Linked DNA regions of Homo sapiens. The protein of the gene in region 4 purifies or fractionates together with the protein of the main gene of each other region. This does not show direct contact. Each region holds a gene or a part of one and is shown on either strand. Other genes may lie near its edges.

Evidence for each region.
Region 1: the proteins of SLC18B1 (region 4) and BACH1 purify together in Homo sapiens (affinity purification with mass spectrometry; one large-scale study listed by BioGRID and IntAct). This does not show direct contact.
Region 2: the proteins of SLC18B1 (region 4) and TMEM192 purify together in Homo sapiens (affinity purification with mass spectrometry; one large-scale study listed by BioGRID and IntAct). This does not show direct contact.
Region 3: the proteins of SLC18B1 (region 4) and AP1G1 purify together in Homo sapiens (affinity purification with mass spectrometry; one large-scale study listed by BioGRID and IntAct). This does not show direct contact.

What each region holds. Positions count from the first base shown.
Region 1 is NC_000021.9:29,305,422-29,308,921, reverse strand, and holds part of BACH1 (transcription regulator protein BACH1), read right to left. Parts: intron 1-3,500. UniProt on the Homo sapiens protein: Transcriptional regulator that acts as a repressor or activator, depending on the context. Binds to NF-E2 DNA binding sites. Plays important roles in coordinating transcription activation and repression by MAFK.
Region 2 is NC_000004.12:165,102,861-165,106,360, forward strand, and holds part of TMEM192 (transmembrane protein 192), read right to left. Parts: intron 237-3,500; coding exon 90-236; intron 1-89.
Region 3 is NC_000016.10:71,798,835-71,802,334, reverse strand, and holds part of AP1G1 (AP-1 complex subunit gamma-1), read left to right. Parts: intron 1-3,500. UniProt on the Homo sapiens protein: Subunit of clathrin-associated adaptor protein complex 1 that plays a role in protein sorting in the late-Golgi/trans-Golgi network (TGN) and/or endosomes.
Region 4 is NC_000006.12:132,784,222-132,790,087, reverse strand, and holds part of SLC18B1 (MFS-type transporter SLC18B1), read left to right. Parts: intron 1-250; coding exon 251-324; intron 325-2,506; coding exon 2,507-2,654; intron 2,655-5,866. UniProt on the Homo sapiens protein: Proton-coupled polyamine antiporter involved in the translocation of polyamines from cytosol into secretory vesicles prior to their release via exocytosis.

The DNA.
Region 1 (3,500 bases), on a different chromosome or scaffold from region 4:
ATCACTGAAAGGAACCTGACACTAAACTGTGCTCAACTTAAATCATCAAGGTCTATAGTTATACATACTACATATGGACAACTAGAAGAAGAGAACACTAGGAAGTATTTCACTACAAGTTACTTTCAATACAGAGGATTAAGCATCCATGTTCTATTTTCATAATGAAATAAAGATTCTTCATATGCCATCTTGTTTTTTAAACTGTAAAAATTACAACCATAATTCATATTCTTTAGGAGGCGAAAGCCCTAAAACTAGTTGATGGCCAAAATGACCCCCTGCAGGTTTAAGAGTTGACACACATAGTATGCATAGTAACCGAAAAGATAAAATAAACAAAAAAAGTGCTCTTCAAATTCCTAACTATACACCAACTCACAATAAAATTTGAGTCAAAAAGGGGGGTGAGGGTGGAGGGAGGTGCTTAAGAGTATAAAAAAGAATGTTAACAATTTTAATTAAATAAAACAGAAGTTACCGTAGGGCAATCAGTATATCATATGAATCACAAATTTGAAACTGTTTTATTCAAGTAGAGATACTAAACTGAAATGTCTTATTTAAAAACAACCTAATCCACTAATCCCTAACAGCCACCGTAGGGCCACAGTTTCTCAATATACATAGCTAAAACTAAAAACATAAGTCTATTTTTTACTATTTAACTTGGGAGTCAAAATAATCATTTCTAAAATGAGGATTTCCAAGCTACAGATTTGCACCAGTGATCTCAGTAACTACTTTTCATTATATCATAACCACAAGATTCAGCCAAATAAGGAACAATTTGCAGCCTATAAATAAAGCTGAAATATAGCTCAGTTTAAATAGCATCTGAGGAACTACTGAGTAGGGAAATACTATTGCATTTATCTGAGACAAAAATTATATTGGTAGTACAAGTCTTTCTAAATTCTATCCAAAAAACTAATACCAGTTCAGAAGCCTACTCTGGCCATTTATCACAGTCTATTTGTTACTCTCAAAAAGAAACAACCATTGAGCAATTCTCATTTTGTAAATTTACAACACTCAAGTGTTTAGGATTTACATTATTTGTCTGCCTTTCACAGCACAGAAAGCACCCAGACCTGCGATTGAGAAGGAACAAGAATGAAATACAAAAGTGCTTTTACACAGTGATCATACTTGTAACAACATACACAGGTGTCCCCCTTATCTACAGGGGATACATTCCAAGAACCCCAGTGGATACCTGAAACTGCAGATAGTAACAAACCCTATATATATACTATGCTTTTTCATCAAGCACAGTAAGAGATTAACAATAATAAAATACAACAATTATAACCATATACTGTAATAAAAGTTATGTGAATGTGATGTTTGTCTCTTTCTCAAAATATCTATTGTATTTAATATTTTTGGACTTCATCTGACCACAGGTAACAAACTGCTGAAAGTAAAACAGTGGGTGGGGATCCTACTGTATTTCAAAATTGCTAAGAGAGTAGATTTAAAGGTTCTCACCACACACACACACACACACAAAGGTAAGTGAGGTAATGGACATGTTAATTAGCTTGATTTAATCTTTCTACAATGTACACATACAGCAAAACAGAAAAGTTAGGAGTACTACAAGAATACTGTATAAACTTAAGGTGGCATTAATTTTAAAGTCTGAAAAGAATGACGAATAAGCTAACTACGGGACAGCTTTCCCTTCGAGGAGGGGAATGAGTGTGTAGAAAAGGGAAGATGTTCCTGTTTGTACTCCTGATTCAAGAATTTGCATTCTAAAGAATCCTGACCCATCTAGCCAATGAACTAACAATTCTATCTGAGCCAGGCTGGCCTCAGCACTCAGTGCAAGCCATAGAGACCACAGGTGGGTGTGCACTATGGACTGAGGGACAGAGTAGTCCTCTTAGTATACACATAATCAGAAACTACAAGATATAATTATATGTTCTCCTCTCCCTGAAAGGAATAAGACAATGGCAGGGAACTTTTGAAATGTTTAAAGCATTGAAAAAAAAAATTATTTCTTCTATATATATTTATTGACAAAATTGGCATTTTCAATTTTTAAATAATTTTTAAATAAACCATTGATTTGATTTGATTGTAAAAGTGCTACTTGATCATAGAAGGAAATGGCATATAAGAGGAAAAAAAGTCACCTAAAATTCCAAATCCAAAGGCAAGCACATTTTCTTTTTCTCCTCCGAAGTTTGTATCTAAGTGTAGTGGTGGCAGAACTAGTAGACAAGGATGTCACTGTTAACTGCACAACACCATTCACCCCCTCACTTTCTAACCAAACCCTGACTGTGCTCACGTATCTACTCTCAACCCGAGGCCATCAACTTCCAAGGAAGTAGACCCCAGCCACAACCTAAGATGAATCACGATCCATTTATGCCAATCACAGCGGTACTATTCCCCTTGACCTTGACTCATTTAGGCACTGGCTTGTGTGCAATGCTGACCTATGAAGAGAGGAGAGAGGGACAAGGTAGCATCTGCTATGAGGCTTTAGGGAAAAATTTTTCTCACTGATAGCAACAACCTAGGAAAAAAAAAAAAAAAGTGTGTCTTCTTCCAGGAAACTTAAGTCATATTTTCTTGTGACACTTGAACTTGTGGCAGCCATCTTGCAACCATAAGAGGAACTTGCCAAGGACAAAACAAGGACGTTGCCTGCATCTTCAACCTTTTTCCATTGACTGGATTTTTAAATACACACACACACACACACACACACACACACACACACACACACTCTTCCTGACCCAACTTCTCCCTACTAAAATCTATTTCTCTCTCCTCTTATTCACAGCTAAGCTTCTCAAATTGAGTTGATACAAGTTGTTTCCTCCACTAACCTATGCATTCATCACTAAACATCCCTAAGGCTTTCTTGATTTCCCAAAACTTAGGCTTTTAATAGTCTGTGGTTCCACAGCACATTTTACATGTTGCTACTATAGCATGCTATGGGAATAGTTTGCCTGTCTATTAGACTGTAACTTCTGAAAAGTTCATTATTGCCAATATCTGGAAAAGTTCCTGGCTTATAAAAGCCTAAACATTTGTTTCATAAGTTAAATGTAAACCAAATGCCTAACATGTAGGAATGCCACAAATATTGACATGAATTTAGCAACCCTACTGTCCACATACACTGAAAGTTAAGTATGCGTTCATGTGAGTTGGGGGAGAACAGCAGCAGGAACAGGGAGAAAAGAGAACACAGTGCCTTAGCCTTGAAACTTAAAAACACAGTTTTTCCTCACTCTTCAGAGATTAGAGAGCTGTTCCAAGCTAATTCAACAAAAAAGAAGAGGCTGTTTCCACACTGGCATCTGAGAAGCAGTGGTAGGATAGCTCTCTAGAATCTCAGCTCCTCTGCTATTTGTGACCACTGTTGCCAACCTGCTCAAAGAAGAAAAGGTGGCCCAGCCTTTCTGGGGTCTGGAAAAAGACAAACTAGTCCAAAGACAGGAGGCCCTCAGAGACAAAATATACTT
Region 2 (3,500 bases), on a different chromosome or scaffold from region 4:
ATAGATACAGCACAACTGCCCTCTGAAACACTTATATAATTTTTACAAACATCACCTCTGGATAGGTCCCCTTCTTGCAGCCAACTTACATGAATAAACCACAGAAGATTCACTATGATGACTGTAGGAAGAGGATGGAATCGGGGTCTAAAGTGAGCTTGTAATGAGTGGTGTGGGAGAAGCTGGGCATCCAGAAGTGGGTCGTCTTCAATACTCTGGGTGATATCCAAGGAACCCTGGGGTGCAGAAAAACAAGCAACCTATAATCACCACTTTCTAGATTATGTTTCTAAGACAAATCTACTAAACTACAGAGCTTTTTAACCACATACAAATTAAAGGCAAGAGAACACATTGCCTACCTGAATCCAATTTTTTAAAAATTAATTATTAATTTAATTTAATTAATTAAAAAATTAATTAATTTTTTAAAAACTGTAGCAACACGGTCTCACTATGTTGCCCAGGCTGGTCTTGTTTGTTTGTGTTTTGTTTTTTGTTTTTGAGACAGTCTCGCTCTGTTGCCCAGGCTGGAGTGCAGCGGCGCAATCTTGGCTCACTGCAACCTCTGCCTCCCAGGTTCGAGCAATTCTCCTGCCTCAGCCTCCTGAGTAGCTGGGACTACAGGTGTGCACCACCACACCCAGCTAATTTTTTTTTTTTTTTTTTTTGAGATAGAGTTTCACTCTTGTTGCCCAGGCTGGAGTGCACTGGCACAACCTTGGCTCGCCGAAACCTCCACCTCCCGGGTTCCAGCAATTCTCCTGCCTCAGCCTCCTGGGGTAGCTGGGATTACAGGCATGCACCACCACACCCGGCTAATTTTTTATTTTTAATTTTTAGTAGAGATGGGGTTTCTCTATGTTGGTCAGGCTGGTCGCGAACTCCTGACCTCAGGTGATCCGCCTGCCTCGGCCTCCCAAAGTGCTGGGATTACAGGCATGAGCCACCGTGCCCGGCACACATCCAGCTAATTTTTGTATTTTCAGTAGAGGGAGGGTTTCACTGTGTTGGCCATGCTGGTCTCAAACTCCTGACCTCAGGTGATCTACCCACCTCGGCCTCCCAAAGTGGTGGGATTACAGGCATTAGCCACAGTGCCCGGCCCCAGGCTAGTCTTGAACTCTTGGCCGCAAGCTGCAATTCCAGCTACTCGGGAGGCTGAGGCAGGAGAATCACTTGGACCCAGGAGGTGGAGGTTGCAGTGAGCCGAGATTGCGCCACTGCACTCCAGCCTGGGCGACAGAGAGACTTCGTCTCAAAAATATGGATATATACTGCATTGTATATACTTTTAATTTGCTAAGAGTGTAGATCTTAAGTGTTCTCATCACATGTTAAAAAAAAGAAAAAAAGAATATGGTTCATGGGAAGCACATAACAAATCAGCAAATGAAAAGCATAGAAGACAATGCCAAAAAATTTAGGTCAGCTAACTGCACTACAATGAGACAGAAATGAAGGATTCATGAATAGGTTTTGGCTACACAGAATGAGAGCTCTTTATTTTGGAAGTAGGTAGTAGGACAAATGATGTAAGAGATGGCTGTTGATTGCTAAGATTACAAAGATAAGGACAGTAATCTAGGGTGTAACCTAGCTCTGGAGTGGGCTCCTCAATTTCCAGTAGCAGGTATTCAACACTGCTCTGCAACTGTTTTTGTTGTTTTGTTTGTTTGTTTGTTTTTGAGATGGAATCTCGCTCTGTCGCCGAGGCTGGAGTGCAGTGGCTCAATCTCGGCTCATTGCAACTTCTGCCCCCTGGGTTCAATCGATTCTCCTGTCTCAGCCTCCTGAGTAGCTAGGATTAAAGGCACGCGCCACTATGCCCGGCTAATTTTTGTATTTTTAGTAGAGATGGGGTTTCGCCATGTTAGCCAAACTGGTCTCAAACTCCCAACCCCAGGTGATCCGCCTGCCTCAGCCTCCCAAAGTGCTGGGATTACAGGCATGAGCCACCGCGCCTGGCCAAGTCTTTTATTCAATGCCTAGATTGCTTCCTGTTTAGTTTACCATAACTCATGGTACAATTCAGATTACTCCTGTTCTCTTCAAGACCCCTCTGCCTCTAGCTCATTCTCAGTCAGCAGATGTTGGAGCCTTGAGATCTGCTCTTCCCTTAGCTAATGTCTGTGCATTCTTTCATGCTCAGAAGGGGCAATTCCCACCACAGGGCCTTTCTGGATACCCCTAATCTGGATTGTGCCACCCTCCATGTTTTTCAAAGCATTCTGTGCTTGCCTCTTCTATCAAACTATCCTGTGATGGTCTCTTACTTATCTCTTCTCCACTAGACGTCATTGGACCCATTACCTTTACACCTCTTGTCTTTGTAATCCCAGCACTCAACACTATCTCATGGTTGTCACTCAGCAAACATTTGCTAGATGAATGAATGAGTGCCCCAAACCTGTTTCTGCAGTATTTTCTAATTCAATTATGGGCATCATCAAAGACCTGGGCTAATTAGAAGAGATTATCAGGACATACGGGGGATCAACTGTGACCAAAGGCAGTAAGAGCTGTGGTTAAGGTCAGGCTCCTAAGGGCAAACTGCCTGGATTCAAGCACAAGTTTTACCGCTTTCTAGCTGAGAGCAAGTTACTTCATCTCTCATGCCTCAGTTTCCACATCTAAAAAGGAGACTAATAATAGCACCTGCTTCGTAGCTCTGTCAGGAATACTAAATGAGTCACTACACATGCAAGTCCTCATGACACTGCCTGACGCACAGAGAGCACTCAATAAGTATTAGCCACTATTATTTCTTTATTAACTCTTTTCTCTTTTTAATATTTTTTAAATTTTAAAATAAAAATCAACAGGGTCTCGCTATGTTGGCCAGGTTGGTCTTGAACTCTTAGCCTCAAGCAATCCTCCCAAGTGCACTCCCAGTGTGCTAGGATTACAGGTGTGAGCCACCACACTTGGCCTTTTTATTAACTCTTACTTTTGACTTGCACCCCGCTATGGTCTAAATGTTGGTGTCCCCCAATAGTTCCCTGCTTTCCTTTGGGAAGTAATTAAGCCATGAGGGTTCCCCCCCTCATAAATGAGATCAGTGCCCTTATAAAAGAGGCTTGAATGAGCTCCCTTCCACCTTCCACTGCGTGAGGATGCAGCAAGAAGGCGCCATCTTTGAAGCAGAGAGCAACCCCTCCCCAGGGCTCTTGGCACCTTGATCTTGGGCTTCCTGAATCCGTGGCTGCCTTAATCTTGGACTTCCTGTCCTCTAGAACTGTGGTCAATACATTTCTATTTGTAAATTACCCTATTTGTATTTTACTATAGCAACCCAAACAAAGACACTACCCCTATAATCATTACCATTCTATCCACTCAGTGCTGGGGCATGATAAAAAGAGAAAAAATCATTACCATTCTAACTCCTAAACCTGTTATTTCCTCTCTATTCTCACTATCTTAGTCCAGGCCCTCCCATTTCTCATGGCCTTTTATTAGAAGCTTCCAGTCTTCTGGTCTTGGCAATCTCTTTCACT
Region 3 (3,500 bases), on a different chromosome or scaffold from region 4:
AGACTGTGCCACTGCACTCCAGCCTGGGTGACAGAGATAGACTGTCTCAAAAAAAAGAGGTAAGTAAAAAACGCTTCTTTTGCTTCCTTTTAAGACTGAACACTTTTTCAGTTGTTTAGTTTTGAGGTTTAGTTAAATAGGTTCACTAACTTGAGCTGTAAAAACACTAATGGAACTCCTTTTACTTTGAGTTGTACAACTGTATAATCATTTATATAAGTTAGCTCTTTCAACCAAATACACATTGAGTATCTCTTATCTGAAATGCTTGAGACCAGAAATGTTTCATATTTTGGATTTTTTCAGATTTTGGAATATTTGCGTTACACCACTTGTACATCCCTAATCCTAAAATCCAAAATCTGAAACACTTGCAGAGCATTTTTTTCTTTTCTTTTTTTTTTTTTTTTTTGGTTACGGAGTCTCGCCCTGTCGCCCAGGCTGGAGTGCAGTGGCGCAATCTCGGCTCACTGCAAGCTCCGCCTCCCGGGTTCATGCCATTCTCCTGCCTCAGTCTCCAGAGTAGCTGGGACTGCAGGCGCCCGCCACCACGCCTGGCTAATTTTTTGTATTTTCAGTAGAGACGGGCTTTCACCATGTTAGCCAGGATGGTCGTGATCTCCTGACCTTGTGATCTGCCCGCCTCAGCCTCCCCTGCTGGGATAACAGGCGTGACCCACCGCGCCCGGCCTTGAAGAGCATTTCTTCAAGCATCATGTCAACAATCAAAAAATGTCAGGTTTTGGAGAATTTCAGATTTTGGATTAGGGATGTTTACCCTATAGTGTTTACCCTGTAGTGTTACATCATCTGTTCTATGACAGTCTTAATTTTAACCCCAAATTTTAACAGATTATGAATGAATTTACGCTTCAATATTTCTCTCAATGCTTAGTTAAGTACTGTACATACTCACGTAAGTGTACATAGGAATTTTTTGTTTTTACTAAAGAGAGATCATATTATTTATATTACTCTATGACACGCTTTTTTTTTTTTTTAACATGTCATGGTCAGTAAATATAATTCTTTTTTTTTGTTTGTTTGTTTTTTTTGAGATGGAGTCTTACCCTGTCACCCAGGTGGTGGGAATCTCCGCCTCCTGGGTTCAGTGATTCTCCTGCCTCAGACTTCAGAGTAGCTGGGATTATAGGCACCTGCCACCACACCCAGATAATTTTTGTATTTTTAGTAGAGATGAGGTTTCGCCATGTTGGCCTGGCTGGTATCAAACTCCTGACCTTAAGTGATCTGCCTGCCTTGGCCTCCCAAAGTGCTGGGATTACAGGCATGAGCCACCGCGCCCAGCCAATATAATTCATTTTTGTTTTGTTTTTTTGAGACGGAGTTTTGCTTTTGCTGCCCAGGCTGGAGTGCAATGGCGTGATCTCAGCTCACCGCAACCTCCGCCTCCCAGGTTCAAGTGATTCTCCTGCCTCAGCCTCCCGAGTAGTTGGGATTACAGACATGTGCCACCATGCCCCGCTAAGTTTGTATTTTTAGTAGAGATGGGGTTTCTTTCTTTTTTTTTTTTGAGACGGAGTCTCGCTGTGTTGCCCAGGCTGGAGTGCAGTGGCGCGATCCCAGCTCACTGCAAGTTCTGCCTCCCAGGTTCACGCCATTCTCCTGCGTCAGCCTCCCGAGTAGCTGGGACTACAGGCACCCACCACCACGCCTGGCTAATGTTCTGTATTTTTAGTAGAGATGGGGTTTCACCATGTTAGCCAGGATGGTCTCCATCTCCTGACCTCGTGATCTGCCCACCTTGGCCTCCCAAAGTGCTAGGATTAAAGGCGTGAGCCCCCGCACCCGACCCGAGACGGGGGGGTTTCTCCATGTTGGTCAGGCTGGTTTTGAACTCCCGACCTCACATGATCCTCCCACCTTGGCCTCCCAAAGTGCTAGGATTACAGGTGTGAGCCACCGTGCCTGGCCAATATAATTCTTTTTTTTTTTTTTTTTGAGATGGGGAGTCTTGCTCTATCACCCAGGCTAGAGTGCAGTGGTGCGATCTCGGCTCACTGCAAGCTCCACCTCCTGGGTTCACGCCATTCTCCTGCCTCAGCCTCCCGAGTAGCTGGGACTACAGGCGCCCACCACCACACCCGGCTAATTTTTTTGTATTTTTTTTTTTAGTAGAGACAGAGTTTCACCATGTTAACCAGGATGGTCTTGATCTCCTGACCTCGTGATCCACCTGCCTCGGCCTCCCAAAGTGCTGGGATTACAGGCGTGAGCCACCGTGCCCGGCAATATAATTCTTTATTATTATTTTTTTAAAAGATGACATTTTGCTATGTTGCTCAGGCTGATCTCGAACTCCTGGGCTTGAGCAATCTGCCTGCATCGGCCTCCCAAAGTGCTGGGGTTACAGGCGTGAGCCACCGCACCCAGCCAATATAATTTTTTATTATTATTATTATTATTATTATTTTTAAGATGGAACCTCGCTCTGTCACGAAGGCTGGAGTGCAGTGGCGCAGTCTCGGCTCACTGCATGCTCTGCTTCCTGGGTTCACGCCATTCTCCTGCATCAGCCTCCCGAGTAGCTGGGACTGCAGGCACCTGTCACCACACCCCGCTAATTTTCTGTATTTTTAGTAGAATTGGGTTTCACCATGTTAGCCAGGATGGTCTTGATCTCCTGACTTCATGATCCGCCTACCTTGGCCTCCCAAAGTGCTGGGATTACAGGTGTGAGCCACCGCTCCCAGCCTATTAGTTTTTTAATAAGAGATGAGATATAGCTGTATTGCTCAGGCTGGTCTCAAACTCCTGGACTTGAGCAGTCTGCCTCCTGTGGCCTCCCAAAGTGCTGAGATTACAGGTGTGAGCCACTGCACTCAGCCCACAGTAAATATAATTCTATCTTGTTCCTTTAAACAGTCCTATTGTGTCTTATAGCGTGGATGTACCATAATTTATTATTTTCCTGTGGACATTTAGATCATTTCTAGATTTTTGCCACTTAACAAAGTGCTACAATAAATATCCTTGTACATGCCGCCTTATATGCTGATGCTTTTATTTCTGTAGTCTCCAAAGGGGGAATTCTGGGTTAACAGAGAAATATATTTTAAATATTATTATTGCTAGATTACTCTCTAAATAGGTTATCATAATTTTCATCCCAAATAGCAGTAACTTCTCCATATCATGAAACCACTGGGTATAAATACATAGTTTAATTTTTACTAGTCTGCTAGATGATAAATGGGTCATGCAGTTTGTCTTAATTTTAACTTCCCTGTTACTGGGGCTAGCCTTATTTGATACGTATAATAGCCATTGGATTTCCTTTACCGAGAATTGTCTGCTCATGTCCTTGCTTCATTTTTCTTTCTCTTTTTTTTTCCTCCTGTAGGAGCGCTTATGGAATGTTAATTCTTTGTTATATGGCACGTGTATTTTTCTTGTCTTTCATTTATCCTTTTTTTTTTTCCTGGGAGACAGAGTCTCACCCTTGTCGCCCAGGCTAGAGTGCAGTGGTGTGATCTCGG
Region 4 (5,866 bases):
AGAAATAGCCATCGTTATAGTTTTATAAATTGTGCCAGTGTTGACAGTTCTCTCCTCAGAGTTGATTGATTTTTAACTCTTTCCATGTTTTTAAGCAATGAGTACTGTCACCATATTAAAGAATTATTATAATATATTAACTGTACATGTCTTCCCCTATCCTATATTTGCCAATACAGTGGATTTGTTTATATCAATATAGACTTTCGGAAGTCATAAATTTACCACTCTTCTTTGACATTTATTATAGCTTGTACATATTGGAGCAAAATTTATGTTTGTAGCAGGAATGTTTGTCTCAGGAGGAGTTACAATTCTCTTTGGGTAAGTCATTTTCTGATTATATTTGGGAGCTTGAACAGATTTTGTAATGTATCTTCTGTTTAAATTGTTAAATACTCTTTAAGTCAATGGTTCCATTTATTGTCTGTCAAATGCATAGCATGTGACTAATGGCAGGAGTTGAGTAAGTAGAGAACAGGGATAAATGGCATTGATTTTAAGGAAACAGGCCTCCGGGGGATCTCCGTGATGCTTGCTACTGAACCTACTCATTAGAATTCCTGTGATTGTGAGTGACAGAAACTTAACTCACTTTTCTGAGTCACGGAAACTTACTAGCTTCAGTAAAAAAGTGAATTTCTTTAATAAAGTGTCAACTCAAAAAATATCAGAATACAGATTTGAAACGATGTCACGAGAAATTTTTCTTCTTGTGATTTGAACAAGCCCTCCCCTTTAGGTGGCAAGGGGACCCCTAGCAGCTTCAGTAGAAAGTGCCAGTTTCCTAATAGTTCCTATTAGAGTCACAGAATGAAGCCCCGCTGGCCTGACCTTTGCTGATGGCTGTAGCCATGGGGAAAGAATGTTCTGCTTGGCCAGGCCAGGTCACATGCTCAGTTCAGAGCATGGAACAAAATGGTTTCCCCCATTGCTACTTCCAGAAAAAGGAAAAATGAGTGCCAGAGGCAAAACAGATGTGAAAGTTCCAAATAATGTGGAAGAGCTTATATAAGTACATGGGGGAACATAGAGGAATACCAGTATAGTAAGATTATAATGAAGTAAACTGAAGAAAACTGTTATATTAAATGAAATGGGGTTAAAATTTTTTTGGAAGGGTCGTTTATTTTCTTTCTTTATTCCTTTTTTTTTTTTTTTTGAAGGTTTCAGTCTGACTACGGGAGAGATCGAAACTGGGTGCTTTCTTCTTTATAGGTCTTGTCAGAGTGATTCTACATGTTTTTTTTTTTTTTTTTCTTTTTGAGATGGAGTCTCACTCTATTGCCCAGGCTGGTGTGCAGTGGTGTGATCTCGCCTCACTGCAACCTCCACCTCCCAGGTTCAAGCCACTCTCTTGCCTCAACCTTCCAAATAGCTGGCATTACAGGGGCTCACCACCATGCTTAGCTAATTTTTGCACTTTTTTAGTAGAGATGGGATTTCGCCATGTTGGCCAGGCTGGTCTCGAACTCCTGACCTCAGGGGATACACCCACCTCAGCCTTCCAAAGTGCTAGAATTACAGGCGTGAGCCACCACACTCGGCTGATTCTACATATTCTAAAAAGGTTTATTTAGTACTATCATCTGGGGGACCAGTTATATCAGCAGAAAAGGGCAACTAAGCTGTCATTATGACTCAAATTGTTATCAAAAAAAGAAAAAGGTTAATTTCCTCCTACTGAAAAGACAACAAAGCAACTCTTTTAAAAAAAATCATATTCTAAAGCAATTTATTATAAAAATTATGGGTGAGGTACTATTCTTTTTAGTGAGTACAGTTAAAAAGGAAAAAAAAGAAAACAAGCTTGGCATTTGAGAATTGTCTTATTCCTTTTTAGTGTATTGGACCAAGTTACAGATGGGCCAGTATTTATTGCTATGTGTTTTCTTTTTCTTTTTTTTTTTTTCTTTTTCTTTTTTTTGAGACAGAGTCTCACTCTGTCGCCCAGGCTGGAGTGCAGTGGCACGATCTCGGCTCACTGCAAACTGCGCCGCCCAGGTTCATGCCATTCTCCTGCCTCAGCCTCCCGAGTAGCTGGAACTACAGGTGGCCACCACCACACCTGGCTAATTTTTTGTATTTTTAGTAGAGACGGGGTTTCACCGTGTTGGCCAGGATGGTCTCGATCTCCTGACTTCGTGATTTGCCTGCCTCAGCCTCCCAAAGTGCTGGGATTACAGGCGTGAGCCACTGCGCCCAGCTGATTCTACATATTCCAAAAAAGTTTATTTAGTGCTATTATCTGGGGGACCAGTTATATCAGCAGAAAAGGGCGACTAAGCTGTCATTATGACTCAAATGGTTACCAAAAAAAGAAAAAGGGTAATTTCCTCCTCCTGAAAAGACAACAAAGCAACTCTTTTAAAAAAATCATATTCTAAAGCGGTTTATTCTAAAAACCATGAGTGAGGTACTATTCTTTTTAGTGAGTACAGTTAAAAAGGAAAAAAAAAAAAAGAAAACCAGCTTGGCATTTCAGAATTGTCTTATTCCTTTTTAGTGTATTGGACCGAGTTCCAGATGGGCCAGTATTTATTGCTATGTGTTTTCTAGTGAGAGTAATGGATGCAGTTAGCTTTGCTGCAGCAATGACTGCATCTTCTTCTATCCTGGCAAAGGCTTTTCCAAATAACGTGGCTACGGTATTGGTATGTATTTTAGAAGTATTTCCCACTTTCCTTTGAGTGTAGGCCAAAATATTTGCCCTTCCAAGTTAAAGCTGGGGTCCATTCTTCTATACTTGCATTTCTCTACTCTCTGTATTATTGTTGCCTTTCACCCCGAGTTTGACTAGCAGCAAGCCTGTCAATAAATGTAACATTGGTTTCACTTAGGTGCTCTTCCTGGTTTTAGAATTCCCTGAATGGGCAGTTTGACAGGTAAATGTGGTCCAAATCAGTCGTTCTTTTTACCACTTAAAAAAAAAATTTTCCTTTGTAGTTTTTTTGCTGTCTCCCCGTAGCCTAGATTGTGGCTGAGCTGCCTGAAGCATTCCTCTGCTTTAGAAAAGAGTTATCCCTAGTGGCAAAATAATCAATTCATACTAAAGGCCTTCTTCCACTTTCCCCAGATTTATGCACGGGATCTTAGAAATCATCTCAAAGTCCTTAAGTGTTTCTGTGCTGTCTGTCTGAGGAGTGCTTTTGCATTTTGACATAAAAATCCAGATCCTGGTGGCATGATATTGACATGCGTTTTTGTGTACTGCCTAGATGCGTATAGACCTGGTATTAGTGACATATCAGATTCTCATCCCATCTCTAGGCAGCTGCCTCTCTGATCCCCAAGAAGGCTTTCCCCTCGTAGCTCTCTCTCTCTCTCTGGGCCCACGCACTTCATATCATAGTCGGTATGGCGCCCTTATAGCATGTAATTGTTCTCTTAGACTTCAGAGTCTAATCAGCTTAGTACCGAGGACTCCCTCATTTACTCATGTAACAATGTAGTTTGAAAATTTTTACCATCAGATAAACCCTTTGTGGTGTAAATAGTCCTTCCCCCCAACCTTTTTTTTTTTTTTTTTTTTGGAGTGGGGGATGGAGTCTCGCTCCGTAGCCCAGGCTGGAGTGCAGTGGAGCGATCTCGGCTCACTGCAAGCTCCGCCTCCCGGGTTCACGCTATTCTCTTGCCTCAGCCTCCCGAGTAGCTGGGACTACAGGCGCCCGCCACCACACCCGGCTACATTTTTTTTTGTATTTTTAGTAGAGACGGGGTTTCGCCATGTTAGCCAGGATGGTCTCGATCTCCTGACCTCGTGATCCACCTGCCTCAGCCTCCCAAAGTGCTAGGATTACAGGCGTGAGCCACCGTGCCCGGCACGTTCTTCCCACTTTTTATTAAGCATTTATGTATATAGCTGGATAGGTTTATGGTAGGTTCTATTGCCATTTGGCCGGCATACCATTTACATTTCCAGAAAATTTATTTCTCAGAAAGGGCTCAGAAGAACACCCGTCTGTTGATATGCTCATTAAGATAAGGGTTTATGGTTAAGCAAGTTTGGAGAGGGCTGTCTGCTGTCCTCTAACTTAGAGATGCCCAGTTCACATTAATGTCTTTAGACCTTGAAAATCCTGGAGTAGGGATACTTTATTAAATGTTCCACAACTCACTTTAACTATGGAACCATTTTTTTTCTTTCTTTTCTTTTTTCTTTTTTTCTTTCTTTTTTTTTTTTTTTTTTTGTAGAGACAGGGTCTTGCTGAGTTGCCCAGGCTGGTCTTGAACACCTGGCCTCAAGCAATCCTCCCACTTTGGCCTTCCAAGGTGGCTGGGATTACAAATGTGAGCCACCACACCTGGCTGTAACTATTTTTTCAAACAAGACTTGTTGATCTCTTAAAGAGCTGGTATTCTGTGGAACACTCTGGAAAGTGCCACTTAATAAATTCCTATGATAATGGTAACAATCCATTGGATTTTCTGATCAGCAAGAGACACCAATGTTGCTGTACCAAGTTTCTGTATAAAATTGCAGCCAACAGCTAACACACTAATGTGATAATTGATCTGGATGGCTTATTGTGATTAAAGAATTTCAATGTTCTTTATGAAGTTTTGAAAGTTATTAATGGTATATTTTTGTGTACTCTATAAGGTCTAAGGATATAAGGCTGCAAGCCACAGATCTCTGTTTAAGGTCCCTAAAAACTAGATTGATTTAAAATGTTGCAATATCTATAGTGGTAAACCCTTTTTTTCCATAGCATTGTTTTGTTTAACTTTAAACAGAATAATTTTATATGGTACAAAATTCAAAAGTTACAGAAGGGAACATAGAATATAGTAAATATATTCTACATATAACAGTTGCTCAGCCTTTGTATACACATCAGTTGTGCAGGTGCCCAGCCCTCCATCCCCTTAGGGGAAGGCAACAGATATTGCAGGTTTCTTGCAGAGAAATTCCACATATATATATGTACACACTGACACACACACACACACACACACACACACACACTGAGAGAGAGAGAGAGCACGAGAACAAGAGAGCATGATTTCCCTCCCCCTTTTTTCTTTTCCTTTTTTTTTTTTTTAACTGGACAGGACTATTGCAGTATCCCTCTTTTTTCTTTACACAAATGGTAGCAATACCATATGTACCATTCAGCACCTCACTGGTTACACCAACAATGAAATCATCTTGGAGATCTTCCTGTACCTACATATAAGGAGCTTTCTTACTCTTTACTGTTCTTACTGTCTGTATAGTATTTCACTGCGTGGATATAACCTGGTTTACTTACATCGTTGATGAATATTTAGATTATTTTCATCTTTTGCTATTGCAAAACTCTGCTATAGCACATAAGCTTGTATACATACCATGTCATATCTGCATGTCTAAACTTGTAAGTTAAATTCTTAGAAGTGGAATTCTGGGTCATAAGGTATGTGCCTCAATTTGCCAAATTGCCAAATTGCCAAATTGCCTACCGGTGTTCACTCACTAGCATAGAGTGTTCGATAGAGATAGGTGAAAATTGGTATCTTGTGGTTCAAATTTGCTCATTTCTTTTAAAAAGTGAGGGTGAACTTCTAAAAGATCTTTGTATTCCATCTATATGTCAATAATTTATAGCATTTGCCCATTTTTCTATGGGTTGTTTATCTTTTCCTCATTGTAGCTCTCATGATGTATTTGGGGAATTAGTTCTTTGTCATTTTTTTCTCTGTTCTTCATTTATCTTTTGATTTTTTTATGCATAGTTTTCGTATTTTCATGTAATCAGATTTGTCAATCTTTTTTATCTTCTGTGTTTTATGTCACAATTAGAATACCTTCCTTACAATAACAATTTTTTTAAAACTCCCATATTTTATTTTTCTAATATTTTTATGATTTCAATATGTGCAT